Regions from separate parts of the Homo sapiens genome. Here regions 1, 2 and 3 are each linked to region 4. Evidence: fine-mapped expression QTL. A gene starts in region 4. Each other region holds a variant in brackets. All regions are shown on one strand. Distances are from middle to middle.

What was found.
Region 1: its variant is fine-mapped to the expression of CD200 in lung (GTEx, PIP 0.99).
Region 2: its variant is fine-mapped to the expression of CD200 in skeletal muscle (GTEx, PIP above 0.99).
Region 3: its variant is fine-mapped to the expression of CD200 in neutrophils (BLUEPRINT, PIP 0.95).

The regions. Positions count from the first base shown.
Region 1 is chr3:112,370,451-112,378,559 of GRCh38, reverse strand. It overlaps LOC105374041 (a long non-coding RNA gene), which reads left to right. Exons shown (of 4, transcript XR_924334.3): 4 at 2,460-2,719. Among named protein-coding and RNA genes, the nearest start is that of CD200, 41 kb to the right of the region's middle. The variant C/T (reference allele first, on the strand shown) is at 3,994.
Region 2 is chr3:112,357,843-112,365,942 of GRCh38, reverse strand. CD200 (CD200 molecule) reads right to left here. Exons shown (of 6, transcript NM_005944.7): 6 at 3,131-4,400. The coding sequence ends at 4,393. Among named protein-coding and RNA genes, the nearest start is that of CD200, 29 kb to the right of the region's middle. RefSeq lists an enhancer at 7,112-7,181. The variant C/T (reference allele first, on the strand shown) is at 3,432.
Region 3 is chr3:112,416,491-112,424,599 of GRCh38, reverse strand. No RefSeq gene overlaps it. Among named protein-coding and RNA genes, the nearest start is that of BTLA, 79 kb to the left of the region's middle. RefSeq lists enhancers at 996-1,848, 5,265-6,118, 6,119-6,972, 6,973-7,826. The variant C/T (reference allele first, on the strand shown) is at 4,855.
Region 4 is chr3:112,328,629-112,336,720 of GRCh38, reverse strand. It overlaps CD200 (CD200 molecule), which reads right to left and starts at 3,565. Exons shown (of 6, transcript NM_005944.7): 1 at 3,497-3,565. The coding sequence starts at 3,508. It overlaps LOC105374042 (a long non-coding RNA gene), which reads right to left. Exons shown (of 5, transcript NR_147411.1): 4 at 7,335-7,375; 5 at 3,967-4,535. RefSeq lists enhancers at 728-1,487, 1,984-2,940, 2,941-3,898.

The sequences.
Region 1 (8,109 bases), 42 kb before region 4:
AAAAACAAACAAAAAAATTGGCAGAGTTGAGATTCTATCTTGCATTCCTCAGACTTAGAAACCTGTGCTGTTTTTCTTTCATTAAGCCCAGTAGAGAATTCTCAGCATTTCTGACAGTTTGGAAGACAGGTACTTAATGGACTATAGCCTCCTCGGCAATGTCTGGGAGACCTGTGATATAAAGTGGAGTCTGGACATTAAAAAAAGAGAGAAAAGGAGAAGAGAAGGTAGAAAAGAAAAGTGTACCATAGAGACAAAGAAAAGAAGTAAATGCATATGTTCCAGTAGAGTGGCCTTGGGCCTCAGTGGAGTTCAAGCAAAGGTGTCCATTCTTGGAATATCCTGCTAAGACTGTGGTCTCTTAATCATGTCTAATTTTACTACCACATTTTAAAATATGGTAAAGAATATCTTAGTTCATTTTGTGTTGCTATAAAGGAATGCCTGAAGTTGGGTAGTTTAGGAAGGAAAAAAGGTTTATTTGGCTCACAATTCTGATTGCTGGAAAATTCATGATTGGGCACCCACATGTGGTGAGGGCCTTAGGCTGCCTCCACTCATGACAGAAAGTGAAGGGGTGATGATGTGTGCAGAGATCACATAGCGACAGAGGAAGCAAGAGAAGGGGGCAGATTCCAGGCTCATTTTAACAACTAGCTCTCTCAGAAACTAATATAGTGAGAATTCACTCACCCCCAAGGGAGGACATTAATCTATTCACGAGGGATCTGCCCCCATGACCGAAACACCTCCCATTCGGCCCCACCTCCAACATTAAGGATCAAATTTCAACATGAGATTGAAAAGCATAACAAAGAACAAGTAAAGGAAAACTGAAAATGTGGGTTATATCAAAGTCAAACTGTGAAATTTGAGAACTGCATTTATTTAATCCTACTGACCTTTAGTTTCCTCCCCTGTAAAATGTGAATAGTGGTACAATATTGTAGATTCATTGCAAAGATAAAGCCATATAAGTTGAGTTCATAGCACAGTATCTGGCTCATAAAGAGATAGCAAATGCATCATCTCCTTCCTCTCTCCTTAAAAAATTTGTTTTATTTTGCAGTTATTTTCTAAAATTTGATTCTGTAAAATCTTTTTTGTGTTGACAATTCCAAAAGAAATTGATGTCAACATAGTTCTGCCAAGTTGCTCAAAAAGCAGGAGGAGGGCAGAAACATGAAGTAGAGATAATTTGCTTTCTGTGACCAACCTCTCATCCCCAAATCCCCAGTAGAATCCTAGATACATGAGTGATACATGGTGGTGATATGCCCCAGAGATTTGGTGGTGGTTTATAACACAGTCATGGCATTAGATAACTGACACAGTCATCATGGGTGAATTGCACAGAGTCAGAGGAAGTAGTATCAAATGAAGCTGATAAAGTGGCTAGAGGCCAGATTGTTGACCCTGTTACAGATCTTAGCTATCTTAAGAACAGTGGAAGCCATTGGAGAATATGAATCAGAGTTACGTAACATCATTATCAGAATTTAGAAAGATTACTTGGGTGTGTTGTAAAGAATGGATTGGCAATATTTCAGACAAGCAATGATAATGTCTAGAATAAAGGCAGTAGCAGTAGAGATGCAGAGATGTATATTTTATATTTAGGATGTTACAGTAATAAGGCTTTGATCAAAGTCCTATTTCATCAAATGGAAACAAATGGGGAAGTATTATGCATTCCTGCCAGATTTCTGGCTTGTGTGTATGATGGTTAATATTGAGTGTCAACTTGATGGAATTGAAAAGTGCAAAGTACTGTTCCTGGATGTGTTTGTGAGGGTGCTGCCAAAGGAGATTAAAATTTGAATCAGTGGGCTGAGAGAGGCAGACCACCCTCAATCTGAGTGGGTGCAATCTAATCAGCTGCCAGAAAGACTAGAATAAAGCAGGCAGAAGAAGGTGGGAGGAGCCGACTTGCTGAGTCTTCCGGTCTTTATCTTTCTCCCGTGCTGGATGCTTCCTGCCCTTGAATATCAGACACCAAGTTCTAAAGCTTTTGGACTGTGAGACTTATACCGGTGGTTTGTCAAGGGCTCTTGGGCCTTTGGCCACAGACTGAAGGCTGCACTGTCAGCTTCCCTACTTTTGAGGTTTTTGGACTTGGACTGACTTCCCTGCTCCTCAGCTTGCAGACAGCCTACTGTGGGACTTCAACTTGTGATCGCATGAGTCAATACTTGTTAATAAACTCCCCTTCATATATACATCTATCCTATTAGTCCTGTCCCTCTAGTGAACCCTGTGCCCAAATGGATGATGACACCATCCCCTGTTGATATGGACAGGAAACAGGGAAACACTAGGTAGAAGAGGGTGGTTCCCTGGCAAAGGCCCCTATCTCAAGCCTGAAGTCCTGTGGTCCTAAATGGGGACAGGCATTTCTGTTTTCATGTGAAGAAGTTGCCTTTTGGCCCACCATGCCCTCTATCCTGTATTCATATAAGCCCCAGGCTCCAGAAGCAGATGAGAAGATGAGGAGACAAGCAGATGGATTGCAAAATGGTGCAATAGAGAAAGAGAAAAGAAGAGGAATGTCTGAACACTGAGAGATTTCCAGCTGGGGTGGTCAGAGAAGGGTTCAGCCACAAGATGGCCAAAATCCAGGGAAGATCTTCTTCCCACTCCATTCCCTGCTTCTTGTTCCCCATCCATCCCACTGAGAGCCACCTCTACCACTCAATAAAACCTCTCATTCATCCTTCAAGCCCGTGTGTGACCTGATTTTTCCAAGATGCTGGGCAAGAGCTCAGGACACAGAAAGCTGTTGAACTGCCCCTCTGCCCTTGCAGAAAGGCAGAGAGTCCACTGAGCTGATTAACACCCAAGCCATTCGTGGATGGCAAGGCTAAAAGGGCACATTGTAACACACTCCACTTAGGCTCCTTCACCTGCCTGTCTGTGTGCTCCCCCTCCCCTAAGGGGTTTGAGGAGTGCTGGTGACTGAACAGGCGAGCCACACCCATCATATGTCCTTCGAGGGGGATCAGGGAACTCTCCTGTTTCACTGTAATAGAGAAAACTGGAGGAGGACCAGTTATGGGACTGGGAAAGACCAGGAGTTCAGCTTTGGACCTGTTCAGTTTGAGTTGCCTGTAAGTCAGCCAGTGGAGATGTTTTGTAGACAGCTGGATACATATATCTGAGCTCCAAGGAGTTAGAAGTAGTAATTTTGGACTTGTGAGTGTATAGATCATAACTGAAGACATGGCATGGATGAGATCACACAGGGAAAGAGTACACTATGAGCAAACAAGACAGCCTCTATCCAAGTTTTCGAGAATTGCAAAATTTAAAAATTAAGTACAGGAGGTTGGGCTGGAAAGATGAGAAAATCAAGGGCACATCATATTACAGATGACAATGAATTTCAAGAAAGAGTCTAATGTGAGACATGTACAGAAGAGGTAAAGAAAAATCATTAAACTTAGTGATATGGAGGTCACTAGAGTCCTTCTAGAAAGCAAAAAATTGCTTAGAATTTCAAGGGGACCGTGGAGTTGTCCCCTTATGTATGCCCCTGAGCCCAGGTTAAGAACTCCTACCTGTGGATTCCAAACAGTCATCTAACAGGGTAACCTAACTGGATTCAAAGTATTAATTTTCTACTCTCTCAATGGCAAGAAAAATTGCTTAGCTAACTTTAATGTCATTTGAAACTATGTGATTTTGTGTCCCAGGCAGGCTAGAGGTTCAAAGAAAGAGGTTATATTAATATAAATAAGGCAGCTTCTTTATTTGTCCATCGGAAAGTCTGTTCGTCTGCAATCATAGAAAGCATTAGATAAATCAGCTGCAGGGAGATAGCTGTACAGATGCGAAGCTCTGCCTGATGATTCCAGCCTATTTTCCTGGCATAATCAACAGTGACTTATTCCTTCCCTGGAAACTAATCTTCCTGTTTGGACCAATTGTATTATTCTTAACCACACCGTAGGTTATGGGCAACAGCATGAGTAAAATCTGGGAATTCCTGAGATG[C/T]GCTTCCAAAAAACTATGGTCGGGAATATGTAAATCTGAATAAATAAGAGCATGAGTTTATAAAAATTTCCAGTTCCACCCAATAAACTCTCTTCCTCCCTTTTTTTAAGAGATAAGATCTCGCCCTGTCACCAGCCTCTCTCCCTTTTGACCATTGAACCACTGAAACCCAACTCCAATTACTGAAGCCAACTATTTCATAACTCAGTCTCTCACACTCTTGAGCAGATTCAATAATAGGAAAGTTTATCTTTCACTTTTTCTGTTTTGGTTCTGGTCCTGCTCTCTGGATCTTTGTGTTAGTTTCCTATGGCTGCCATAACAAATGACCACAAATATGGTGGCTGAAAATGATAGAAATTTATTCTCTCACAGTTCTAAAAGCAAGGTGTTTGCAGAACTACATTCCATCCAAAGGCTCTAGGGGCAGTCTGTTCTTACCTCCTCCAGCTTTTGATGGCTCCAGATGTTCCTCAGCGTGTGGCCACATCACTCTAATTTTTGCTTCTGTGGTCACATTGCCTTCTCCTGTCCTCTGTATGTCTCGTATAAGGACACTTTTTACTGGATTTAGGGCATGCCCAGATAATCCAGAATGATCTCATGTCTAGACTCTTAAATTATATCTGCACAGACTCACTTATGAAATAATATCATATTCATAGGTTCTGGGGATTAGGATGTAGACCTATATTTGGGGGGATACAATTCAACCCACTACCACCTCCAATGAACACATCTATTTTCTCTTTCATAGAACTGCTTTTTCAATGGTTGAAGAAGCTGTTAGATTTCCTCTTGTTCATATTAAGGAAAAAATGGCTGATGTTACTGAAGCTCTACAATGTTCCAGGCATGTGCCAAAATAATATTACAATGTTAGCGTCTATTTTTACTTCCTATTCATTACCATTTCCCTTTTGTGCGTTATAACAGGTGGGGTCTTTTTGCTCACTGCCTCAGGAAAAGGATGTGGCGAGGGAAAAAGAATAGTAACTTATTCTTATTTTACAAAATGCTAAAATCTCAAGCTTTTGGGTAAAGTGAATCAGCACACGTGTGGGGAGAGAGAAGGAACAGAGCAGAGACAGGGAGACGATCTATGGATCCCATGAAAGAGGGTGCATGGGTAGATGTGATTGTGCTCAAACTGTCAAATAGGATGCTGCAAGGAGCCTGGGGCAAGTCACAACAGAAGAATTACAATTTGGCTGGTGTGGTGGCTCACGCCTGTATTCCCAGCACTTTGGGAGGCCGAGGTGGGCGGATCACCTGAGGTCAAGAGTTTGAGACCAGCCTGGCCAACATGGTGAAACCCTGTCTCTACCAAAAAAAAAAAAAAAATTACCTGGGTGTGTTGGTGGGCACCCGTAATCCCAGTTACTTGGGAGGCTGAGGTAGGAGAATTGCTTGAACCCGGGAGGTGGAGGTTGAGGTGAGCCAAGATTGTGCCACTACACTCCAGCCTGGGAAACAGAGCAAGACTCCATCAAAAAAAAAAAAAAAGAAAGAAAAGAAAAGAAAAAAAGAATTACAGTTCAAAGCTCGGTTTTGGAGTGAAGCCATACACATTTTCAGAAAAACGAAATTATTTCCTTTTGAGAAACAGCTTTTGGCTTACAATTGAGCCCTGGAAGTCCTTGATCATTGGGATACCAAGTTACTTTTTGCCCATAATTATGAACTGTGTGATTGATCCACCCAGGCATAAAGTCGGGCGTTCCCAATGACAGTATATCATCAAACAGAATTAGTATATATAAACCTAGGCTTGAGAAAGGCCTGAAGATACTGGTCCTCAGGATTAAATTAAGTTGTATGGGCAACTGACCATTCTTTCGGTGTATGTAGTCCTGTTGCATAGTCACCTGTCTCTCAACTATTTCAACTGCCTCAGTGGGAATTCCCATGAACAGCTGAATAAGGAACACAACAATCTAGACTGATTTATGAAGCAATGAAATTCAATATTCCACCTCATACTCTTTCAGAATTTTTGCTTCCTTTCCTGACAGCTCTGAATGAAACCACCCATGAAGACCTTTCAGCCAAAACCAAAGTTGCATCATTATCTGTGTGTGTAATCTTGAGTAAAATGTATTTCTTCATCTGTAAAATATAGGGGTCAGACATGATAGTTCTGAGGCCTCTTAGCTCAATGATTTTACTATTATCTGATGGGGGCCCATATACGATTCAATGTGGAAAAAAATAACAGGAAATCCACTATTTGGATAGTGGGTACACTAGAAGTCCAATCCCCAATAGTACATAATATATCTGTGTATCAAACATGCATATGTACCCCTGAGTATAAAATATAATAAAATAAAAATAAATAAATATATAACAAAAAATAAAATAAACAAAAAATAAAATAAAACAAAAATTACAGAAACTGAATATATCACCCAATTCCTCTGTCCCCTTTGTGCTATGAAACAATGGCAAAACCAAGAAATTTCCTTGTTTATTCCTTTGATATAGCCTGCCATTGACCAGAATGAAATATATCAAATTTCTGTCTTTAGAATAAACCTGAGTCTACGGAGTCAGATATCTGACTGAGGGAAATATTCACCAATTCAATTGAATTCATCTAACATTAGATCGCACATCCTTTTAGTGTCAGGGTCAAAATGCAAAGGCACACTTCCTATATTGGAACAGCCTTCTGTGGTGTGAACCCAGCCTATGTTTCCAGTACATTGCATGTTCCTTTCTCTGCTGCCCACCCTAACGTCCAGCCTAATGCTTCCCTTCCTTAGCCTCACTTGGTGTTCCACACCTCCTGCCTCTGCATATGCTGATCTCTCTGCCTGGAATATTTGTCATCCTGTAGTCCAACATTGTCACAGTTTATATGACGACTTCCCACAGCATCTCTAGAGAAAGCATCTTGTCTTATTTATTTTATATCAATAGAGCCAAGCAGAATACCTTTCTCATAATTGATGCTCAATAAATATTAGTTGGAATGAATGCTCAACCATGTGATTAAGCCAGTAGTTCTTACCTCCTGAGTCTATCTCAGGATAGAAGCAGTTCTCTTTTCACTCCATTCCCTCCTTCTTCAGTTCTCTGAAGTGGATTCTTCATTTATTCTCTGTGCTTCATTGCTCACCATCAAACTTTTGAATATGTCAGTTAGGTGTCCTTCTCACTTTTATTTGTTTCTTCTAATAGAGGAATGATATTTCTACGTAGCTATACTACTAACCCCAAACATGACCTCAATCTACTCTTTCATTACCTTACAAACTAGTGAAGTGGACTGTTTAATGACTAAAGGCTGGACTTCAGGTATTACTTCCTGGAGACATTCGCAAAGAGGTTTTAATTAAAATCACTTCAAAAATTTCTAACACATCAAAATTCTTTTCATCTAGTAATATCTAGCTTTATAACTGAAGAAATTACTTAGCCTTCCCGAGCATCTAGGGTTTGTTATTGCTGTTTCTTTGTAAATGAAATAAGGGTACCTTTTTATAGAGATGTCATGGATATTAATTGACACAGTATGAACAGCAATAAACACTGCATCTGGTAAAATAGTAAAGTGATCAATAATGTTAGCTGTTTTAATTATTATTATTTTATAGCACTTTACAGTTTTCTATGTGTAACCAGGGACTCATCTGATGAATCCTCATAATCACATAGTTGGGTAGATATTATGTCAGGAAACCCAGACTTGGAAATGCTTGCCTCATATTTTCCACTATATTTGTTCATTTAAGGATTAATTTTGATTGCCCCTTATTTTCACCAAAGTAACTCGAAGCAGTTTCAAAATATATATACTTAAAAAGTAGTCACCTGGGAATATTGGAACCAAGAAAAGGTGAGCAATCATGTACCAACCATAATGGTAAATAAATTCCATTGACTGAGTACCATATTTGGCTCTTAAAACAAATTAATGGTGGCTTTTCTGGATGGTGGTGTAATGGACTAATATTTTTTATGTCTCTACTTCCTTTATTTTTATTCTTCTGTACTTAACAATTTTTTATAATGAGCATGTATTATTTTTAATAATCAGCAAGAAGCATCTTAATCGGACGTTGGCTTCTTGACCATCAAGGCAAGAAGGAAAATTAGTCATTTATAGTC
Region 2 (8,100 bases), 29 kb before region 4:
TTAAAGTATCTTTGGGGTATCTATGGAGTGTTTTTCAGGGGAAAAGTCATATGAGCCATGCAGGTACCTGCAGAAAGAACATTCCAGGCAGAGAGAAGAGGAAATGCCAAGGCTCTGAGATGGAAACATGTCTGAAATGTTGGTGAAATAGCCGGCAGACTAGTGATCAGGAGAGAGAGTAGGAGGTGACTTCAGAGATTATCAGTGAGCCCATTGTCTAGAGCCTTATAGCCCACGTAAAGACTTTGGCTTGTATTCTAGGTGAGATGGGAAGCACTTGGAAATTTTAGGCAGGAGAATTATGTGATTTGACTTGACATATTTTAGAACAGTTATGTTTCGAATAGACTGAAAGAGGAAGAACACGGAAGCATGAAGATTAATTAGAAAGCAATAACAATGATCTAGGAAACAAATAATAATGGTTTGGGTCAGGTGTAAGAATGGAGGTAGGAGCTGGATTCTGAATATAAGTACAGAACAAATAGGTTACGCTGGCAAGTAAGATTGAGATAAATCACTGCAGGGTGGGCAGAAAAGAGAGTTCACTAGACAGGAAGCTGGGATTTCTGAGTTGGAGTTTTGGCCAAAAACACATTTACAATGCTACTGGAAGAAAGTCGCTGAAAAGTATGAAAGTCACTGAAAAGTATGAAGTCACTGAAAAGTATGATTTTTCACACCTACAAAAATGGGGTTAATTACCTTCAGGACCTCACAAGACAAATGATTATGACATCTGTGTAAATGTTGGTTTGCTTGGATTGAGTCACTGCTCTATGTGACTTTGTGCAAGTGAATTATTAGCCTGAGCAACTGTGGAGGGAAGGATGAAATCAAATCTGGAATATTTTGAGAACAAACAAAAAATAAAAATATCACCGCTGTGAAGAAATAATTTAAGAAGCTTTATTTTAAAAGGCAAAGGCCGAGCAAAGTCACTCACCTCTTTAATCCCAGACAGGAGGATTTCTTGAAGCCAGGAATTTGAGACAAGCCTGGGCATCATAGTGAGACCTTATCTCAACAAAAAATAAAAAGTTAGCTAGGCATGGTGATGTGTGCCTGTAGTCCTAGCTACTCAGGAGTATGAGGCAGGAGGATCGCTTGAACCCAGGATTTCAAGGCTGCAGTGAGCTATGATGGCACCACTGCACTCCAGCCTGGGTGACACAGTGAGACCCTGTCTCTACAACAAAAATTAAATAAAATACTCTTTCTGAGCTCAGAATAGCCATAGAAGAAAGTTCAAAAAAATTATTTTAATCAAAGCCTTATGATTCCTAGTAGTAATATGGATTTTGTACTCTTTGAACCTAGATTTATGAATTGTTATCAAGGCACGGATTGAGGAATACAAACCAAAAAGAAAACATAAAATGACAAAAAAACCCCTTCATTTGCAGTTTCAGTTTCAGTTAAACACAACAGTCTTCTTCTGTTTTCTCCTCTCTCTAAGCAGGTTTGCACTACTCTGGAATTTTTCTGAATTTTTACTAAGAAGAGAAATACATGACTGAGTTATTCTAAGGGACTCAAAAGTTTACAACTTTCCCAATCTGCTTAAATATGCAAAGCCCAAGCTACCTCTTTCTAATTCACAAATACAAAAAAGCACCCATAGTTGAAAGTTTAGGATAAGTATGGAAGGGTTGGTGAGCAGCCAGCCAGGGTGAGAGGGCAGGAGACATAGAGGAGAAAGCAAGGCTGTGGTGTTCCACATGGAGCCACCTTCTCAGCAGAGAGGCATGCTCTCAATTACCCTTTCCTTCTCCCCTTTATTTCTCTATAACCTCCCAAGTCTTCCCCATAAAACATACCTATCCTAAGTCCAAGTATCTCAACATCCTGAAAAGTAACTGAAAAGCCATTTAATAAGCCAATTTAAATTGAATTATTAACAATAGATAAAAATTAGTCTTTGAGCTTTCTCTGCATTTTGAGGAGGAGCTCCCAGTAATACAATGGCCTAAAGTCCTGGTTAAAAGGTGAAATGCTTAGGTACCATGAAGATAGATGTTTAGCAAGGAGTTCCTTTGAGAAAGACTCATGAAATCTTCCCATAAGGTGGTTTTCTTCTTTGCCAATACTTTAAAACAGTAGTCTTTAGCATTGTCCCTAAGACCATCTCAGGGGGTCCACATAATCAAAAAATTATTGTCATGATAACACCAATAAATTATTTGACTTTTTCACTCTCATTCTCTAATAAATGTGCTCTGAAGTCTTCCAGAAGCTATATGATGTTTGATGTTGGCATCACTCTGATGGCTAATAGGATATATGGTTACACATTTTTGTATTTAAATTTTATCAGTTTTAATTTCAAATATGATAAATATCAACAGATATAATTCACATTACAGAAAAAGCTCTTTGGGATCCTCAATGATGTTTTCAAATGCATAAAGGGGTCCTAAGACCAAAATGTTTAAGAACTGTTGCATTAAGTCATCCTGCCTGATCTAGTACCAATTTAGCAGAGATACTAGAAATACAGCAAAATACAAGGGGTTGGTTCCCACTAAATTCAAAACTATGTGAGCTAATCTGTCTGCAAAGGTTGGTATCTAAAAGCAAAATCAAAAGAACACATATAAAGAAGTGCTGCAGAACTGACAGGGTCATGTCAAAAGGACATAGGCACCAACTCAAAGGAGCTCACACCGGCCAGACATCTGATTTGTGTTTTTGTGATTAGTCAGAAACACCAGCTTATCTTTTTTTTTTTTTTTTTTTTTTTGAGACCGAGTCTCGCTCTGTTGCCCAGGCTGGAGTGCAGTGGCGCTATCTCGGCTCACTGCAAGCTCCGCCTCCTGGGTTCACGCCATTCTCCTGCCTCAGCCTCCCGAGTAGCTGGGACTATAGGCGCCCGGCTAATTTTTTGTATTTTTAGTAGAGACGGGGTTTCACCGTGTTAGCCAGGATGGTCTCGATCTCCTGACCTCGAGATCCGCCCGCCTCGGCCTCCCAAAGTACTGGGATTGCAGGCTTGAGCCACCGCGCCCAGCCCAGCTCATCTTTTAGGAGGGGAAAGATAGAGAGGAGGGGAGGGTTTTACATATGATGGGAAAAGACAAGGATTATCATTCATTTCCACATTTCCCAAGAGAATATCATAAGCCAAATATTTGGAGTCAACACTTTTAATTGTTCAATATTTTACTACAAATATAAGAAACAATACAGAATTAAATAACACATGAAAATCTTGCTATATATATATATAAATATCCAATTTAACAGCGAAAACAACTTACACTTTAATTCCTAGGCCACTGGATAGACACAGACAAAGCAGAAGATACTGAAAAAGCAACTAATTATGGTTATTAAAGATTCAACATCATTCCACTAGCTGGAACAATATCTTTAGAACAAAGGGATTGTATGCTCATATTTGCCTCCTCTGCTATTGGGAAAAGTTAACG[C/T]ATGGAAAAAGAAGCCAGCAGAGACAAAGCATATGAATTGGCTGACTGCTATACAGGAAATCTCCTAAACATCTGTTTTCATAATGTATTTTCATTATATGAGGCTGAATTTAGAATGACGTAAAATAGGGCTGGGTCATGTTATAAGACAAATGGACAGGGAGGGCATGCTTCTCAAAAAATGTGAGCTATTGTCTAAGACTAACAATATTTATCTAGCTATAAAAATAAGTTAAATGAATAAGTTAAGATTGCCAATGTTACTTCACAATAAATTCAGTCCTATTTGTGTTGGAGTAAATCTCATAGAAGCACATGAAGAACAGCAGTGAAACCAAGGATTCTAGCAAGGCCAGCTATTAGCAAAGCAGTAAGCAGGAACTGGACTAGATACCAAATGATGGGGAAACAGACTCATAGACCTAAGAACATAGGAAGAAGAGATGTAACATCAACAGAAAGGCAAAAGGTAAGCTCTCTGTATTCTTTCTTCTCTCTCTCTTTCAATTCTTCCCCCTTTGCTTATTCCCTTTTTTTTTCTGGAATTACATTTTAAATTAAGTTTTAGAGCTATGTGGTAAATTATTTGGTCCAATTCCTTTATACTTTGGATGAGGTAAAGTGACTAACAGAGGTCCCCACCAGTAGGAGCCCAAGTCAGTCTGTGAGCTCAGTGCTCCTGATACTAACTAAGTCCAGTGCCCTTTCAACCACATAACATGGCATTGCTTTACAAAATCAAGTCCTACAACAGACCTGAGAGGTAAACTGACTTCCTCTTGGGATTCAAACACTGAGTAGCTCAGATGGCAGTAAAAAGTCGTGGGATCCTTAAGGCTTTCGCTCCCACCTCTTTTGCTCTTTCAGGTCCTTTGGAGAATGGCCCCTTTTCCTCCTGCTTTTCTCTTGTGTCAAATTCAAGTAGACCAGGGAATCACTTTCAGGGTGCTGTGTGACTTATTTAGGGCTCTGGATAAAAGAAAAACAAGGTATTAACTTTGGACACTTGTAAATTCTATCATAATACATTTTAAGAAGATAAATAATAGAGAGATTAAGAAACACAGAGTTATTCTAGTGTATATTCATTGGCAAAGATAAAGAAGTAGACATTTCTGACCCAGTATGGTGTGAGGGGACTATGACTCTTTACAAGAACAAAAGTAGGCTGGATGCAGTGGCTTGTGGCTGTAAGCCCAGTGTTTTAGGAGGCCGAGGCGGGAGGATCATTTGAGCCCAGAAGTTCAAGACCAGTCTGGGCAACATAGTAAGACCTTGTCTCTACAAAAAATAAAAATAAAAAAAAAAATAGCTGGACATGGTGGCATGCACCTGTAGTCCCAGCTACTCAGGAGGCTGAGGCGTGAGGATAACTTGAGCTCAGGAGATTGGGGCTGCAGTGAGCTATGATCTCACCACCGCACTCCAGCCCCAGGCAATATAGCAAGACACTATCTCTAAAAACAACAAAACAACAACAACCAAAAACAAAAACAAAACTGAAGCAAAAATAAAAGGGCATACGTAATCCTAGGAAATAATGGTTTAGAAAATCACCTAAGACTACAAGTAAAGGAATATGTTCAAAAATTCCAAATGATCAAAATGTATTCTATTTGTAAGCTTTGTTTCTGATGGATAATAACTCACTGGATGTCAGGGTAGAAATGGTCACGAAGTAGAGGCCTTTCCAAGGGCTAGTGGCTTTCTGGCACATACTGGGAGCCTGGAAACCTCTCAAGGCACATAGACGATGAAGTAAAAGACTTGGAATTTTATCTTGGCACCACCTCTCACTCTCTGTGTAATCTTAGGTAATTGTTTACCAGAACCTGCAAAGTTCTGCACATTTTAGATCCTGCCCAATATTTCTAACATCAGATATCAATGGACCATGGAAAGACCATCTTCTCCCAACATGGCTCAATATTTTTCAATTTCAATAGTAAAAACGAATTACTAGAAAAATGACATAAAATAACATAATTCATTTTTAAATTATCAGATTTAACAGATATAAAATTACTGTCAAATTCTTATCATAGAGTGTAAGCATTTTTTCTCAGTTATGTACTTATTTTACTTCAGACTAGTAAAGAACACTTCTTGGATGGGCAACCATCCTCAGACCATATTGGGAGTAACACTGCTCTAAAATATATACATATATATATATATTTTTTTTAGATGAAGTCTCACTGTGTCAACCAAGCTAGAGTGCAGTGGCGCAATCTCTGCTCCCTGTAACCTCCACCTCCTAGGTTCAAGTGATTCTCCTGCCTCAGCCTCCTGAGTAGCTGGGAGTACAGGCACATGCCACTATGCCCGGCTAATTTTCATATTTTCAGTAGAGATGGGGTTTCACTATGTTGGCCAGGCTGGTCTTGAACTCCTGACCTCAGGTGATCTGCCTGCCTCAGCCTCCCAAAGTGCTGGGATTACAGACATGTGCCACCGCACCCTGTAAAATATTAATGACTTTTCTGCCTTAGAGCTTTCACATTTGCAATTAATTTGCTAAAAACCACTCTTCCCTTGTCTCCTCCATGGCTGGATTATTCTCTCCTTGAAGGTCTCTGATTAAAAGTCACCACCTCAGCGAAGCCTTCCCTAACAAAATCCAAGTAACTGGTATCCTTTTCAAGTTATCCTCTTTCATTGCATGCTATATTTTATATTATTCTATATTATTTCCTTGTGCTAAAATCTCGTGTTTTAATAGTATCCTTATTTGTTGATTCACTTGTCATTTCTCTGCTGTCCCCCTAACCTGTCATCTCCATTAAAATGACAAGGTCCTGTTTTGTTCATTATAGTATAATAACCAGTGCTAATTACAATGCCAAGCATATTAAAAATTATTAATAAATACTTATAAAATGAATGAATTGAACTTCTGTGAATTTGGTTTTATCACCTATCAGATGGAAATACTTTCCTTATCAATTGCTATGAGAATTAAATGTAATAACTTCCAGGTCTAGTCCTTTTGTCTCATGAACATCCATTTAAATATTTAAGAACACCCTCCATGCCCTCCTTTCATCCCCACTTACAAAGTTTTATCTTCTGAAATCTAAGTGCTGTTTTCCCTGAGTGGTGAGACTATGCATTTTGAACTATCAATTACCAATAACAGAATTTATAATTCTTATATGACCTAACTACTGACTGGAATCCAGAATAATAATCTAAATGATAGCATGGTTTCCTTTAAAGATCACTAGTATACATTTTTGTTGTTGTTGTTTGTCTGTTTTTTTTAAAAAAAGCTCTTAAATTAAGCCTGACTTTGAATGGTTGATTACTTGATTCTGCATCTGGTCTGAAGAAGTTTTTCCTTTCTCTAAAATAAAGTTTCTATATATCTTTCTCCCTCCATCGCCTCAAAGGCCATGCTTTACTCACAGCCCTTGCCAGAGCAAAACCTTTTAGGATTCTTCTAAACTCTAGAATACCTAAGGACTACCTGAAGTACCGGTTAATTTGCAAAAACACAGGACACTTGTAGAGAATGTGATTCTTTGTCTTTTTGTGTGGTTCAGGAATATACTTTCGTTTTGTTTCTCTCTTTCTTTCTCTCTCTTTCTTTCCTCTCACTTTTCTTTCTTTCTCTCTTTTGTTTCTTGTTGGATTGGGTAATCTATGAAGCAAGGTATGAGGGAACAAAAATAGTAAGATAAGTTTAAAACATATGGAATAGAGAGTGAAGAAGTTGTTTAGTGCAGAGAAGACAGAACAGCCAAGTTGTGGTAAGGACAGGAGAAACTAGATGCAAAACTCATGAATCAGTGCTGATGGGGAACCTAGGGCAGCTTTGGATCTACAAGCACCTTCAGGTAGCCGCTCTTCCTGACATGCGGCAGTTTAGTTTCCTGGAAATCCATTTATACACATCCTTACAGGAACTGCCCTCCCTCTACCCTTGACTCGCACTAGCTTCAGTGAGTAATTTTTCTTCCCATACTCCTACAAAAAAAATGTCTAAGCAAAACAGTTTCTCTTCTTCAAAAAGAGATACAACTGCACTAGCAGGAAATCAGTTTTCGGCATCACAAGTTCATCTAGGCATCACAAGTTCATTTCAGTATACGCACGTTTTTAGAATGCACATTTTCTGATTCTGTCTCCCCAGTGGGTCCCCACAAATTTCTCCCAAGACTGCTACTGAAATGACTTATATAGCAGGTCCTCCAACAACATCCTTTCATTCCACAACATGTTGTTATAATGTTGATGAGAAAAACAACAGATTCCCATCCAGGACCACTGTGTGGGAGTTAGCACATCCTCCCCAAGTCTGCATGGGTTTTCTCTGGATACTCTGGTTCCCCCCACATCCCAAACACGTACTGCATGTTATGTAAATTGGCATGTCCAAATGGTCCCAGTCTGAGTAACTGTGTGTGTGTGCGTGTGCGTGTGTGTGCGCGTGTGTGAATGCCCCCTGCTCTGGGATGACGTCCTGTCTGGTGTCAGTGTCTGCCTTGCATCCTGAGCTGCATAGGCTCTGGCCACCCATACCCTTGAACTGAAATCATTGAGTGAATAATTATCTCACTTGTTTTTGTTACTGTTTCTTAAATGTATGCATAACTCACATTTATTTCAATGTTTAATATTAGAAATGTTTTGGTCTTTATTAAAAGTTTGGTGATGTTTTTGTGAC
Region 3 (8,109 bases), 88 kb before region 4:
GCTGTTCTGCAGGAAATTACCTTCATGTGATGACTGCCTTCAAGTACAGTTTCAAGAAAGCTATTCCAGACCAGAAATACCAGAAAGCCTCATGGACCAGATTAAAATGCTTGAATTACATGGTTTATTAAATCAACTTAAAAACACACAGCAAGAAACAAGTGGAAAGAGTTAAGTTAACATACTTAAGTTAGAAAAGTCCAAAAGAGAAGCTAAAAAAAGAAAGATTGCATTATTTTCAGACAATTTAATGCAACAGAAAATAATCCTAGGTATGATAATAGAGCCCTAGGATAACACTGTATTGTGGTTTAAGCAAATCACTAATATTCATAATAATGACCAGAAATGGAAATGAAAATATATGATTGTATTCTTTAGGTTTGCAAAAAGGCAAAACAGGTTTATAATTTATTTTAGGAAGAATTCCATTCAATACGCTTTTTAAAAATCTAGGTGACTAAAAGTTTGACTTTTTCATGAGTACAGACTAGGATTTATTTTTCAGCTCTGTCACTCACTGTGTGACACTGCATAATCTAAATCATATATCTGAGCTGTCATTTCTTCAACTAGGAAATGGTAAGGGTAATACATTTCTGAAATAGTTATCATGACAATTCAATAAATTTATTCATGTATGATGCTTAGGATAATATTAGTTGCTATTATTAATATTACTAAAAATGTTTTTCTTGAGTTTTCCTAAATTCATTGTGTGTATAATTTTAATGGTTACAAAATATTTTGTCATACAGTTTTAATTTAAACTACTAAATCAATCTCAATCAGATACTGGCAGGAGTTTTTGTTTTTCAGAAATGGATAACATTAATCTGAAATTTATATGAAAATGTAAAAGTTTAGAAATGGGCAAGGCAAGCCTGAGGAAGAAGAAGAAAAAAAACTAGAGGACTTGTACTAAACATAAAGATCTGTTAAAAACCATAGTTAATTATACTCTTATATATATTTAGTAGTTAAGACAGTGTGGCTCAAATATAGATTAAAATTACCAATGGTAGAGAATAGAGAGTTCAGAAGCAGATTCATCTGATTTATGAAAAATATGATATAGCGGTGCAGTGAGAAATGGATGGGACCATTGGATATTCACATGGAAAAAGCACATATCAACTTCTTCCTCACAAAAATAAATTTCAGAACAATTACATATCAATGTGAAAGATAAACAAATAAGGCTTTTAGAATCATCAATGCTATATATGTGAATTGTCAGGCCTCTGAGCCCAAGCCAAGCCATCGCATCCCCTGTGACTTGCACGTATATGCCCAGATGGCCTGAAGTAACTGAAGAATCACAAAAGAAGTGAATATGCCCTGCCCCACCTTAACTGATGACATTCCACCACAAAAGAAGTGTAAATGGCCGGTCCTTGCCTTAAGTGATGACATTACCTTGTGAAAGTCCTTTCCCTGGCTCATCCTGGCTCAAAAAGCACCCCCACTGAGCACCTTGCGACTCCCCACTCCTGCCCACCAGAGAACAAACCCTCTTTGACTGTAATTTTCCTTTACCTACCCAAATCCTATAAAACGGCCCCACCCCTATCTCCCTTCGCTGACTCTCTTTTCGGACTCAGCCCACCTGCACCCAGGTGAAATAAACAGCCATGTTGCTCACACAAAGCCTGTTTGGTGGTCTCTTCACACAGACGCGCATGAAATTTGGTGCCGTGACTCGGATCGGGGGACCTCCCTTGGGAGATCAATCCCCCGTCCTCCTGCTCTTTGCTCCGTGAGAAAGATCCACCTACGACCTCAGGTCCTGAGATCGACCAGCCCAAGAAACATCTCACCAATTTCAAATCCGGTAAGCGGCCTCTTTTTACTCTCTTCTCCAACTTCCCTCACTATCCCTCAACCTCTTTCTCCTTTCAATCTTGGCGCTACACTTCAATCTCTCCCTTCTCTTAATTTCAATTCCTTTCATTTTCTGGTAGAGACAAAAGAGACACGTTTTATCCGTGGACCCAAAACTCCGGCGCCGGTCACAGACTGGGAAGGCAGCCTTCCCTTGGTGTTTAATCATTGCAGGGATGCCTCTCTGATTATACACCCACGTTTCAAGGGTGTCAGAACACGCAGGGACGCCTGCCTTGGTCCTTCACCCTTAACGGCAAGTCCCGCTTTTCTGGGGAAGGGGCACGTACCTCAACCCCTTCTCTCCTTGTCTCTACCCCTTCTCTGCTTTCCTGGGGCAGGGGCAAGTACCCCTCAACCCCTTCTCCTTCACCCTTAGCGGCAAGTCCTGCTTTCCTAGGGGGCAAGAACCCCCCAATCGCTTATTTCCGCACCCCAACCTCTTATCTCTGTGCTCCAATCCCTTATTTCTGCACCCCAACCTCTTATCTCTGTGCCCCAATCCCTTATTTCCACACCCCAACCTCATATCTCTGCGCCCCATCCCTTATTTCTGTGCCCTGACCTCTTATCTCTGTGCTCCAACCCCTTTTCCCACTTTTCTGGAAGGTAAGAACCCCCGAACCCCTTCCCTCCATTTCTCTACTCTCTTTTCTCTAGGCTTCCTTCCTTCACTATGGGCAAACTTCCACCCTCCATTCCTCCTTCTACTCCCTTGGCCTGTGTTCTCAAAAACTTAAAACCTCTTCAACTCATACCTGACCTAAAACCTAAATGCCTTATTTTCTTCTGCAATGCCACTTGACCCCAGTACAAACTCGACAGTAGTTCCAAATAGCCAGAAAATGGCACTTTGAATTTTTCCACCCTGCAAGATCTAAATAATTCTTGTCGTAAAATAGGCAAATGGTCTGAGGTGCCTGACGTCCAGGCATTCTTTTACACATCAGTCCCATCCTAGTCTCTGTGCCCAGTGCAACTCGTCCCAAATCTTCCTTCTTTCCCTCCCGCCTGTCCGCTCAGTACCAACCCCAAGTGTTGCTGAGTCTTTCTAATCTTCCTTTTCTACAGACCCATCTGACCTCTCCCTTCCTCCCCAGCCTGCTCCTCGCCAGGCTGAGCTAGGTCTCAATTCTTCCTCAGCCTCTGCTCCTCCACCCTATAATCTTTTTATCACCTCCCCTCCTCACACCTGGTCTGACTTACAGTTTCGTTCCGTGACTAGCCCTCCCCCACCTGCCCAGCAATTTACTCTTAAAAAGGTGGCTGGAGCCAAAGGCATAGTCAAGATTAATGCTCCTTTTTCTTTATCCCAAATCAGATAGCGTTTAGGCTCTTTTTCATCAAATATAAAAATCCAGCCCAGTTCATGACTTGTTTGGCAGCAACCCTGAGACACTTTACAGTCCTAGACCCTAAAAGGCAAAAGACCGTCTTATTCTCAAAATACATTTTATTACCCAATCTGCTCCTGACACTAAAACTCCAAAAATTAAATTCCGGCCCTCAAACCCCACAACAAGATTTAATTAACCTCGCCTTCAAGGCGTACAATAATAGAAAAAAGTTGCAATGTTCCTTGCCTCCACTGTGAGACAAACCCCAGCCACATCTCCAGCACACAAGAACTTCCAAACACCTGAACCGCAGTGGCCAGGCGTTCCTCCAGAACCTCCTCCCCCAGGAGCTTGCTACACGTGCCGGAAATCTGGCCACTGGGCCAAGGAATGCCCGCAGCCCAGGATTCCTCCTAAGCCGCGTCCCATCTGTGTGGGACCCCACTGAAAATCGGACTGTTCAACTCACCTGGCAGCCACTCCCAGAGGCCCTGGAACTCTGGCCCAAGGCTCTCTGACTGACTCCTTCCCAGATCTTCTCGGCTTAGTGGCTGAAGACTGACACTGCCCGATCGCCTCGTGAGCCCCCTAGACCATCACGGATGCCGAGCTTCGGGTAACTCTCACAGTGGAAGGTAAGCCCGTCCCCTTCTTAATCAATACGGAGGCTACTCACTCCCCATTACCTTCTTTTCAAGGGCCTGTTTCCCTTGCCTCCATAACTGTTGTGGGTATTGACGGCCAGGCTTCTAAACCTCTTAAAACTCCCCAACTCTGGTGCCAACTTAGACAATACTCTTTTAAGCACTCCTTTTTAGTTATCCCCACCTGCCCAGTTCCCTTATTAGGCTGAGACACTTTAACTAAATTATCTGCTTCCCTGACTATCCTGGACTACAGCTATATCTCATTGCCGCCCTTCTTCCCAATCCAAAGCCTCCTTTGCGTCCTCCTCTTCTATCCCCCCACCTTAACCCACAAGTATAAGATACCTCTACTCCCTCCTTGGCGACCAATCATGCACCCCTTACCATCTCATTAAAACCTAATCACCCTTACCCCACTCAACGCCAATATCCCATCCCGCAGCACGCTTTAAAAAGATTAAAGCCTGTTATCACTCGCCTGCTACAGTATGGCCTTTTAAAGCCTATAAACTCTCCTTACAATTCCCCCATTTTACCTGTCCTAAAACCAGACAACCCTTACAAGTTAGTTCAGGATCTGCGCCTTATCAACCAAATTGTTTTGCCTATCCACCCCATGCTGCCAAACCCATATACTCTCCTATCCTCAATACCTGCCTCTACAACCCATTATTCTGTTCTAGATCTCAAACATGCTTTCTTTACTATTCCTTTGCACCTTTAATCCCAGCCTCTCTTCGCTTTCACTTGGACTGACCCTGACACCCATCAAGCTCAGCAAATTACCTAGGCTGTACTGCCGCAAAGCTTCACAGACAGCCCCCATTACTTCAATCAAGCCCAAATTTCTTCCTCATCTGTTACCTATCTCGGCATAATTCTCATAAAAACATACGTGCTCTCCCTGCCAATCGTGTCCGACTGATCTCTCAAACCCCAGCACCTTCTACAAAACAACAACTCCTTTCCTTCCTAGGCATGGTTAG[C/T]GTGGTCAGAATTCTTACACAAGAGCCAGGACCACACTCTGTAGCCTTTCTGTCCAAACAACTTGACCTTACTGTTTTAGCCTAGCCCTCATGTCTGCGTGCAGCGGCTGCCGCTGCTTTAATACTTTTAGAGGCCCTCAAAATCACAAACTATGCTCAACTCACTCTCTACAGTTCTCATAACTTCCAAAATCTATTTTCTTCCTCATACCTGACACATATACTTTCTGCTTCCCGGCTCCTTCAGCTGTACTCACTCCTTGTTGAGTCTCCCACAATTACCGTTGTTCCTGGCCCAGACTTCAATCTGGCCTCCCACATTATTCCTGATACCACACCTGACCCCCATGACTATCTCTCTGATCCACCTGACATTCACCCCATTTCCCCATATTTCCTTCTTTCCTGTTCCTCACCCCGATCACGCTTGATTTATTGATGGTGGTTCCACCAGGCCTAATCGCCACACACCAGCAAAGGCAGGCTATGCTATAGTACAAGCCACTAGCCTGCCTCTCAGAACCTCTCATTTCCTTTCCATCGTGGAAATCTATCCTCAAGGAAATAATTTCTCAGTGTTCCATCTGCTGTTCTACTATTCCTCAGGGATTATTCAGGCCCCCTCCCTTCCTTACACATCAAGCTCGAGGATTTGCCCCCACCCAGGACTGGCAAATTAGCTTTATTCAACATGTCCCAAGTCAGGAAACTAAAATTTTAATCTCTCCCACTCTAGGTTCCCACGCCGCCCCTAATCCCGCTCGAAGCAGCCCTGAGAAACATCGCCCATTCTCTCTCCATATCACCCCCCAAAAATTTTTGCCACCCCAACACTTCAACACTATTTTGTTTTATTTTTCTTATTAATATAAGACGGCAGGAATGTCAGGCCTCTGAGCCCAAGCCAAGCCATCGCATCCCCTGTGACTTGCACGTATATGCCCAGATGGCCTGAAGTAACTGAAGAATCACAAAAGAAGTGAATATGCTCTGCCCCACCTTAACTGATGACCTTCCACCACAAAAGAAGTGTAAATGGCCGGTCCTTGCTTTAAGTGATGACATTACCTTGTGAAAGTCCTTTTCCTGGCTCATCCTGGCTCAAAAATCACCCCCACTGAGCACCTTGCAACCCCCACTCCTGCCTGCCAGAGAACAAACCCTCTTTGACTGTAATTTTCCTTTACCTACCCAAATCCTATAAAACGGCCCCACCCTTATCTCCCTTCGCTGACTCTCTTTTCGGACTCAGCCCGCCTGCACCCAGGTGAAATAAACAGCCACGTTGCTCACACAAAGCCTGTTTGGTGGTCTCTTCACACGGACGCGCATGAAATGAATAAGTTTGGTTTTTTTAATAGTAGAGTTTAATAGGAGTATTAAAAGAGTAGAATAACCCCAGACAAATGTTTTTTGAGAGATTAAAAGGTGTCAGGGATGGGAAGCCAGATACTCCTGGGTGACAAGTTCATGGAAATAATTAATGTGATTTTGTTACTGGGAAGAGCAGAGTCCTCTGTTCTTAGGCTTACTTGTAAGAAAGAATCCTACCAAGAGACCACTTAGCCCAAAAAGAGAATTTATTGAAGCAAAATTAGAGCACAGAGTTTATTTAGACAGACAGTACACTCCAAAAGATGAGGCACAGTGGGCTACTAACAGAGAATGAGCCAGCAGTAGCCTCAAGAGTTCTGCATTGGGTTTTTATGACGGATTTTTTCTTGAAGTTCTCATCTCTGTGTTAAGTCTCCACCTTTTTCCTTCATCTAGTTTTTCCTGCTGCTGCCTTAAGTCCTTGCCTTTTCCCTGCCTAGTTCCTGCCTCAGATTTGTGGGATTCTGTCTATTAGTTGGCGTGCATGTGTGGACCTTGTGTTGGACACAAATTCTACCTAATGGCTACATTGCTCATTACCATCACCCCAGGAAGGCTGTATGGCAGTTAAATCTGTACTTTTTATGCCTGCATATCTCTTAGGAATTTCTCCTTCACCCTCTTTCCCTCTTTATTAGCATGTAGCTAGCTACATTCCGACAGGTTAATTGCAGAGTGGGTGATTACTGGGTGTCTTAAGGGGGCGATTCTTCCCACATAAGTATTTCCCCATCTCTTTGCTTATATCCAGCCTACATGTTTTGGGTGGTCCCTGGGGTGTGAGATTTTCCATACTTCCCTTTTCCTCAGTGGCTCCCCTCCTCTTGCTGCTTATGTCTAGCTATCTGCCTACTCTGACAATTTCTTCCTACTACAATTAATATGAAAGAGAATTAATTAATTCATTCATTCACTCATATAACAAATACTACCTGAGTGACAACTATGTCCCAAGCATTGTTCTAGGTGCTGAGGATATAGTAATGAACAAGGTAGTTAGTTTCCCCTTTCATGGCTCACTTATGAGGCAGACATGGAGACAACAGAAAGGAATAAATAGATAAATAAATGATGAAGAAATAAAATTCAGTAGTGAAATTGAGACAATGAATCAATACATTCAGTGATGAAACAGAGAGTGACCAGTAGTTCCTATAGATGGAGTGGTCAGGGAAGGCCTCTGTGGGGACATAGGAAGTCACCTGTCACCTGAATGGCAAGAATCCCGCTGCTGGGTGTGTACCCACATGGTGTTATGAAGTGTATTGGTTTTCATGGATGGATTCTGGCTCATAACTCCCAAAGCCCTTGTTACAATCTTTTGTTACAATGTTGGGTATGTTAGGCCTCAGGGGTGGGCCTCTAACCTTCTTCTGCCCTCCTTTCACTTGACCCAAAGCAAGACTCTAATCTTAGCTTGACTTTCTGATTGTGGGTCTTACGGCCCTCCCATGACGGGAGTCCCACCCTATACCCTGGGGGAAGGAATGCTGACATCATGAAAATCTAAGGGCACATGGTTCAGAGAGTTCTTGGATACCTGAACACATGGAGGTACCTGCAGGGTGGTGTTCCTAGGGATGGCATGGAAGCTCCACACCCCTTCCCCTACACCTCATCCCACATGTCTCTTTATTTTTATTCTTTGCAATATCCTTTATAGTAAACCAGTAAATGTAAGTAAGTGTTTCCTTGAATTTTCGGAGCCACTTCAGCAAATTAATTGAACTCAAAGAGAGGGTCATGGGAACGAACCCCAACTTGAAGCTGGTTGGTCAGAAGTTACAGAGGCCCAGACTGGTGTGGTGGGGGAAGGGCATGGGGACTGAGCCCTCAACTTGGGGGATATGACACTATCTTTGGGTAGCGTCGAACGGAATT
Region 4 (8,092 bases):
CCCATCACGGGCATCCCTTTCTGAAGTTGTTTGTATGTTCTTATCGGCTCCTGTTTAGCCCCATCTGTTGCTACTATAATTTGAAGCTTATTTCTAGAATATTGGCCCATAATCACTTAAATGACCTTGCTTTAGGGTCAGGATCATTGCTAAAGGGTGGTGTTCTACCTGTGGGAATCCCATCCCCTCATTCTCGGTGTTTGCCTTAACTAAGCCCTATTTTTGCCATTCCTTTTAGATACAATGACTTCCCTGCTGGAATTCATTTTCCTTATCACTCCAAGCTGGGTCTTTCTGTTTGCCTTTCAATTTCTCTGGGATTTTTATTGTCTTGTGATGGCCTTCTTCCTGTGGGCTCAGGAGCAGCGGGTCGGGAATGGAGTTCTCAAGGATCTAAATCTCTCCTCCTTTACCTGCCACAAGGATTTCTCTTCCTTTTCCTGTCCAATGGGAGCCACTCAATTTTAATATCCTCCTACTCAATGGATTTGTTAATTTTAATTCCAGTCAATACATGCCCTTTTCTTTCCTTATGAAACAGCCACGACCTAAACTTAATGAGGGAAATTTCAAGAGGAAGTACCAAACCAATTCCAAATAACAGGTGTTTCACAAACATTAATCTTATATAATAAGCTTCATTTTTCCTCTAGCAAGAGAAGTTACTAACCAAGTCCCTTCATAGGTAGGGGTAGAAAATTACCTGGTAATCATTGATGGTGGTCTTTCCTAGGAGTGTAGCTGTAAGGAGAGGGCCCCCAATTGTCCTGGTCAGAGTCTGTGGTTTGAGATCAATGAGATGATAAAAATTAGAGCCAATATTGTCTCAGCTCTCTTGGGGCCAACTTGTACCCTGGAGGTGGTTGTGTGTGTTGAGCACCAGAGCTGTCATGGTCTGGGTGAAGACCCAAGATCATGTTAGAGACTGGCCTGCTGGAAAAGGGCTCTTCTTCAGCATTCACTCTAACTGCCAGAGACAAGGAGTCTCCATCACTATCTCCATCACAGTATTCCTGATGGATCTTTCAGGATAGATGTCCTGGAAGGAATGATGTCTCGCCGCCCTGTGGCCTATCCCAAGTGCTGCCACATACCTGAGTGTCTTCTTGTCTTCAGCTAGAGAGAACCAATCACTTAGACTCTCATCCTGGACCCCATGCAGTGGCATCATAGTACACAGTAATACTGATCTTTGTGATGTAAGTTGCTTTTTCCTTACATCTCTAAGGCTACAGAGAATTCAAGATTATATCATCTGAAGGTGCCATTAGGACAAATTATTCTTTGCAGATATATTTTATTATTCGATACCCAAGCATACCATAAGCATGCTATCCCTTCCTTGTGACTTCTCTTCCTGTCTTCATAGGTCTAAGACTAATAACATAGTCACTGCTCTTTGAGAAACCCAAGATGGTTCAGCTGCCTGAATACATACAGCCTACAAAGATCTGCTCACCCTGCCCATCCACTGCTGGGTATTATACTCACAAAGGCTTTGGTTTTGAAGTGAAAAAAAATATATAACTCGATAATTTTCTCAGTATTACTGAGACTGTTCCATCCTATCTAATTATCTAGGAAAGTCAGAAAAAATCAGGCCAAATATTTCCTCAGGCTCCATTGCCAGTGCCCACCCAACACATTTTGTTTTATTTTCAGCTAAGGCAATTGTGGAGACAGATACTGGCATTCCAATTCTATGTGATATTTTTTAAACCATTAGGCTTCTCTGACGTGGAAATCCAGGCTCTACCAGAGGCCATGATGAAGAATGCAGAATGGACAAGCTCTCATAGAGAAAATCTGTGTTTTAGGACAAGAGAGAAAGCAGATACATACCAAACCATATATTGTGGACTGGGAGCCAGCAATGTTAAGAAACAAAACACAGTGATTGAGGCAAAGGAAATCAGAAGGAAAGCCTTACTCTTAAATAGATACGTATTTTTATTTTACAGGTTTTTTTTTTCCTCGAGTCTGTGCAGAATAACTGAAAATACGACCAATCTGAAAACAACAGTATTTATATGTTTACAGGGAGGTGACCGGGGCTAAAACAAATACTAGATTTGTGAGCAAAAGAAATCATTTTACCTCTCTGAGACTCCGGAAAAGTAATAGTACCAATCTAATGGTTAAAAAGACTAAATGAAGTAGTATATAAAGCTCCTAGAATACTGCCAGTAGAAATAAGCACTAAATAAATGTTGCTCTTATCTCACATAGTTATTATGAGAATTAGGCAATTAAAGCACTTAGTATAGAGCCTAGGTTATAGTAAATGCCAATACGTGTTAGGTAGCTAAAAAAATTAATCGATCAAATCATATAGGGGGAACTACAGTCCTGAAAACAAAGAAGCCCACTTATAACCCTTGCCATGCAGTCCAGGGTTCACAAAAACCTGGGTCTTACCAGACAGCTGCCCACCTGGTAGCTATATTGCCCCTATTCATGCCTCTTCCTCAGCAAGTTTCTATGTCCAAATCCACATTACCCCACATGTAGTCACAAGGACTTGGAAATATCAGCCTTTCCGCCTGTTTATGTGTAAAACGAGGTAATAATTCATTTTTAGAAGGATAGTTACAAAGAAGATTAACAGCATCTAGCTTGCAGTAGACCGTAGCTCACAGACCACCATTCTCCTTTGTTAAGAAAGACAGTGAAATCATTGGCTATGTGGTCTTGCCAACAAACCATACATGAAAAAATTATCTTGAGGCATTCACTGTATTTGGATTCTTATACCAATACCATTGTATTTGGATTTCATATACCAATGGGATATATGAAAACCTTCTCCGTTTTTTGTCTTGTAAGCTGGTTCCGAATAAACAAAATGTCTGTTTCTCTAGATACCCGGGGTTAACCCTTCAAAGCATTATGATCACAGAGCATTTCAGCTCTCTCAAGTGTAGCTTCAGCTTTAACTGATCCTTCATGGCTTCCCCCAGGCAAGGGCTAGGAGGGAGAAAGGGGCTGCATAACAAAGAGGAGACGCAGGAGCTCTCCCGGAGAAAGCGAGCCTGGAAATCTGTATCTCCGCCGCAGCTTTTGGTGCCAATATGGAACCAATACAGCATTTCTCTTTCCCTTTTGGGGGCAGTTTAAAATAGGCTGTGCCTCCCCAGTTTTGGGAGCTGGAGCCAGTGAGCCGAGCCGAGCCTGCCCGGAGGATGCGCCAGCTTCGTCAGCGCGGATCAAGAGCCCCCGGAGCCCCGGCCTGGTGCATCTTTTTTTCAGGCAATTGGAATGGAGAATCTGGACGCCAGCAGCTGCCTGTAAACCACCCTTTGGAAGGCAAAATCCGTTTCTCAGCAAGAGAAAGCGCTTAGAGAAAAGCGCTGCCATCAACACCGCTGATCTAGTCCCCGGACCAGATTGTGGCAAGAGCCGAAGCTCCGCGCCTTCCACTCGCCGCCCGCCCCAGGGCCACCGGCTCAACATCGCCTGCCCTGCGCCCTCCTTCCCAAGCCCCGGCCCCGCTCACCAGCCTCTCCATCCTTGCTCCTGGAGGCGCGCGCGAGGTGGCTGACTGCGGATGTGCGCCTGGAGCTCTGCTAGGCAGGCGGGAGGAGCGTCACCTGTGCCCCTGCCGCACCTCCCGCCTCTTCCTCCTCGCTAGCCCCCTTCTCCCACTCCGTTTTCCCCACGCCCTCACAGGAGCGGAGGCTGTCTGTGTGGGGGGAATTAAATGATGTTTATATTCAGCTTTGTCTATTTTCAGACATTTTTCCCTTTTCAAAGGTGACCGCTGGGGAAACTGACAAAGTGTTTGGAAAAAAAAAATCATTTTTTTTTTTCCATTTTCCTGCTACCTGGACTGAGAAAGGAAATGAGGTGGGAGGTTGTGGAGATCAGTTGTTGACCTGTTAGCTCTTGATGTAGTGGCAAAGGATTCAAGCTGAATTTAACCAATGGACTTTTTTTTTTTTTTAAAGAAAAAACTTACATTTATTATTTTTAAATCCAGATTCAAATTATATATTTAAGCAATTCCGTAATGATTTCACCTTTCATGATGTGATCAATTCTTTGGTGAAGAGTTTCCTTCCACTTGCATTAATGATGAGGATTCTTTTTTCCCTTCTCCTTCTCCTTCTTCTCCTTCTTCTTCTTCTTGAGACGGAGTCTCGCTCTGTGGTCCAGGCTGGAGTGCAGTGGCGCTATCTTGGCTCACTACAAGCTCCGCCTCCCGGGTTCCCGCCATTCTCCTGCCTCAGCCTCCCGAGTAGCTGGGACTACAGACGCCCGCCACCATGCCCGGCTAATTTTTTGTATTTTTAGTAGAGACGGGGTTTCACCATGTTAGCCAGGATGGTCTCGGTCTCTTGACCTCGTGATCCGCCCGCCTCGGCCTCCCAAAATGCTGGGATTACAGGCGTGAGCCACTGCGCCCGGCCCTCCTCCTCCTCTTCCTCCTTCTCCGTCTCCTTCTCCTTCTCCTTCTCCTCCTTCTCCTTCTCCTCCTCCCCCTCCCCCTCCTCCTCCTCCTTCGTCTTCTTCTTCTTGTTCCAGAGTTCTTGGCTCTTAAAAAAAAAAAAAAAAGGACAAAGAAATCATCAAGTGTTCACCTCCTGAAGGCTTTTGTGTTTTACTACTACCACCCTCTCATAAGGAGCTGGGACAAAGCTTTGGGGTTTTGTTTTTGCTTCTTTTTACAGACAAAGTCTCGCTCTGTTGTCCAAGCTGGAATGCAGTGGTGCGATCATAACTCACTCCTGGGCTCAAGGGATCCTCTCACCTCAGCCTCTAGAGTAGCTAGAATGATAGTTGTGCAGCCACTATGTCCAGCTTTTTTTTTTTTTCCAGACACGGGGTCTTGTGTTGCCCAGGCTGGCCTGAAATTCCTAGCCTCAAATGCTCCTTCTACCTTTGCCTCCCAAAGCAGTGGGATTACAGGCATGAACCACTGCACCTGACCTATTCTCCCACTTCTTTTTTTGGGGGGGGGGCGGTGGGAGACGGGGGCGGAGTCTCGCTCTGTCGTCCAGGCTGGAGTGCAGTGGCGCGATCTCGGCTCACTGCAAGCTCTGCCTCCTGGGTTCACGCCATTCTCCTGCCTCAGCCTCCGAAGTAGCTGGGACTACAGGCGCCCGCCACCACGCCCGGCTAATTTTTTTTGTATTTTTAGTAGAGACGGGGTTTCACCGTTTAGCCAGGATGGTCTCGATCTCCTGACTTCATGATTCGCCCGTCTCAGCCTCCCAAAGTTGTGGGAATTACAGGCGTGAGCCACCGCGCCCGGCCCCTATTCTCCTACTTCTAACACCATAGACTAGGCTCACCTGATTTTGAATTTTATATGAATGGCATCGTAGCATATGTCTTCACTTGTTTCTGGGTTTTTTACTCAACAGTAGATTTTAAAAATCCATCCATGTTATTGCCTGTAGTGTGGCTTATTCATTCTCACTGATGTATAGTATCCTATTCTGTAAATACTGTCTATTACAATTTATTTATCTATTCTTCTATTAATTAACATTTCTTTGTTTTTCAAATTGGAAGCATTTTTCATAGTGGTGCTATAAACATTCTTATACCTGTCTTTTCACAAGCATATGTACATCATTCTATTACATTTATTTTTCCCATATATTTTCCTATCACTTTATTTTTAACCTTCCTCTATTAGAGAAATATTAACTGCACACTTGGAAAAAAAATTCTCCCACCTTGGCCTCCCAAACTACTGGGATTACAGTTGTGAGCCACTGCACCCGGCCTTAACCTATTTGTATGTTGTAATTACTGATATAATAGGACTTTTAATTTTTTTATATTTTATTTTAGTATATTTTCTTCTGTCTTATCTTTCATTAAGCTAAATATTATCTTGCTACATTAAGAGTTATATTTTATTATTCTGCTGTTTTCTCCTAACTTACTAAGGACAATGCATATATTTATTTTTTTAAGTCAATTTCTTAAATTTCCCAACACGTATACCTTAGCATAATTCTCCTCACCTCTCATAATCTTATTTTCTAATTTTTTAAAAATAAAATCTTACATTTATTATTTTAAAATCCAGATTCAAATTATATAGTTAAGCAACCAGTTTCATAATGATTGAGGCCAGGAGTTCAAGATCATACTGGGCAACATAGTGAGACCCCTGTCTCTACCAAAAAATAAAAATAAATTACCTGAACATGGTGGCACATGTCTGTAGTCCCAGCTAATCAGGAGGCTGAGATGGGAGGATTGCTTAAGCTCGGGAGGTTGAGGCTGAAGTGAGCCATGATGGAGACACTGCACTCTAGCCTGGGTGATGCAGTGAAACACTATTTCAAAAAAAAAAATAGCTTAAAAACAACATTTTTAGGTTAAAAGAGACTTGGGACACAGAAGAGTGAACAAAAGGGGAAAAACTCCCAGCCATAATGAAGCATAAACATTGTATTAAAAACCCTTTGAAAAAGAAGAAATTTGCTTACATAATTTTTTTTAAAGAAAGGTCTGCAGGAAAAAGAAAAAAATGACATTTAAAATTATTGGACAGATTTAAAGGAGCATTCAGAATTAATATATCACCTTAACTATATCAGATGTCAATATTGAGCAAAAGAAGCAAACAAGGAACTCAACAAAATGAGAAGAAAAAAAATAATAAAACTAAAGGCAGAAATCAATAAAAACGAACACAAATAGAATAAATATAATTTTTTTAGAGATTAATTGATCAAACGGGTGGCATGTAATACTCAGAAAATTATTTCTGTAATACTCAGAAAATTATTACTGTAATACAGAGTAACAATATAGAATGAAAAGGGAGAATTAATACTGATGCAACAAATAGCAAAAATAACAAAACAATATTGTGAACAGTAATATGAAAACTTACACAAAATGAATAAATTTCTGAAAGTGGCAAATTGGCCATAAAAATTTAAAAATTAAATAGGCCAATAAATTAGTAAGCAAGTAAATCAAAATCAAAGACTTGTTTTGCAAAATAAATAAATAAATAACAGACCTAGAGGATTGTTGAGGAATAGATCTATCTTATTCATGTTCAAAAGGGAGAATTATAAAATTACTAAGATCTTTCTTTGAGGCTAGTGTTATTTTAATTTTAAAGCCAGGAAAGGATAATCCAAGAAAATAAAATTATAGTCCTCTTTTACTTATAAATATAAAGCAGAACAATTTCCAAAATGGCTTAACATTAGAAAACTGTCAGTATAATTTATTATATTAGTAAATTGCTATGAAAAATTCATGATTATCTCAACAAGTACCAATAAATTTTTTCTTAAGTTCAACAACATATTTATCATAAAAGCAAAGGAGATAAGAATAAGAAAATATTTCCTAACCTTATGCTTAGTGATCAAACTGCAGTAAATGTCATATTCAACTGTAAGGAAATTTTAGACATGGTCTTTTAAATCGGAAACAAGAAAAAGATAACTGTTATTGCAGGTATTAAATATAAAAAGAGGTGTCGATTGGAAAGAAAGAAGCAAAACTGTCATTAGTTGTAAGAGAGAGAATCAACTTCATGAAAAACAATCAAAATCAACAGAAAAACTTAAATACAGAGTTTAGCACAGTTTCCAAATATTGGTTAACTTAAAAAATCCAAAAATGTTCCTAAACCACTAATAATAACCAGCTAGAAATTTTTTAAAATATCATTAATTATAGTGAATAAATTAAAAGTACCAAAGAATTAACCTAGCAAAAATTACACCTACATTGAGAAAATTGTAAAGCCTTCCTAAAAGACATTTAGAAAGACTTGAATAAATGGATAATATATTTATGGCTGAAGGAAATTCCACTATAAAGACATCAATGCCCCAAACTCAAACTTATTAACAACTTATAGTTTGACTTAACATTGTTAAATCCATCTACTTTTTATCCACAAAAAGTGGACTTTTGGTTTTCCATTAAATACTTCTGTTCCCCTAACAGTATAACTGAAAAATGTAATAGAGTGATGCCAAACAGGGAGAAGTAATCTATATCTAGTATGTAAAGGATCTAAGATATAAAAAATTTCTGGCTGGGTGCGGTGGCTCACCCCTGTAATTCCAGCACTTTGGGAGGCCGAGGCAGGAGGATCATT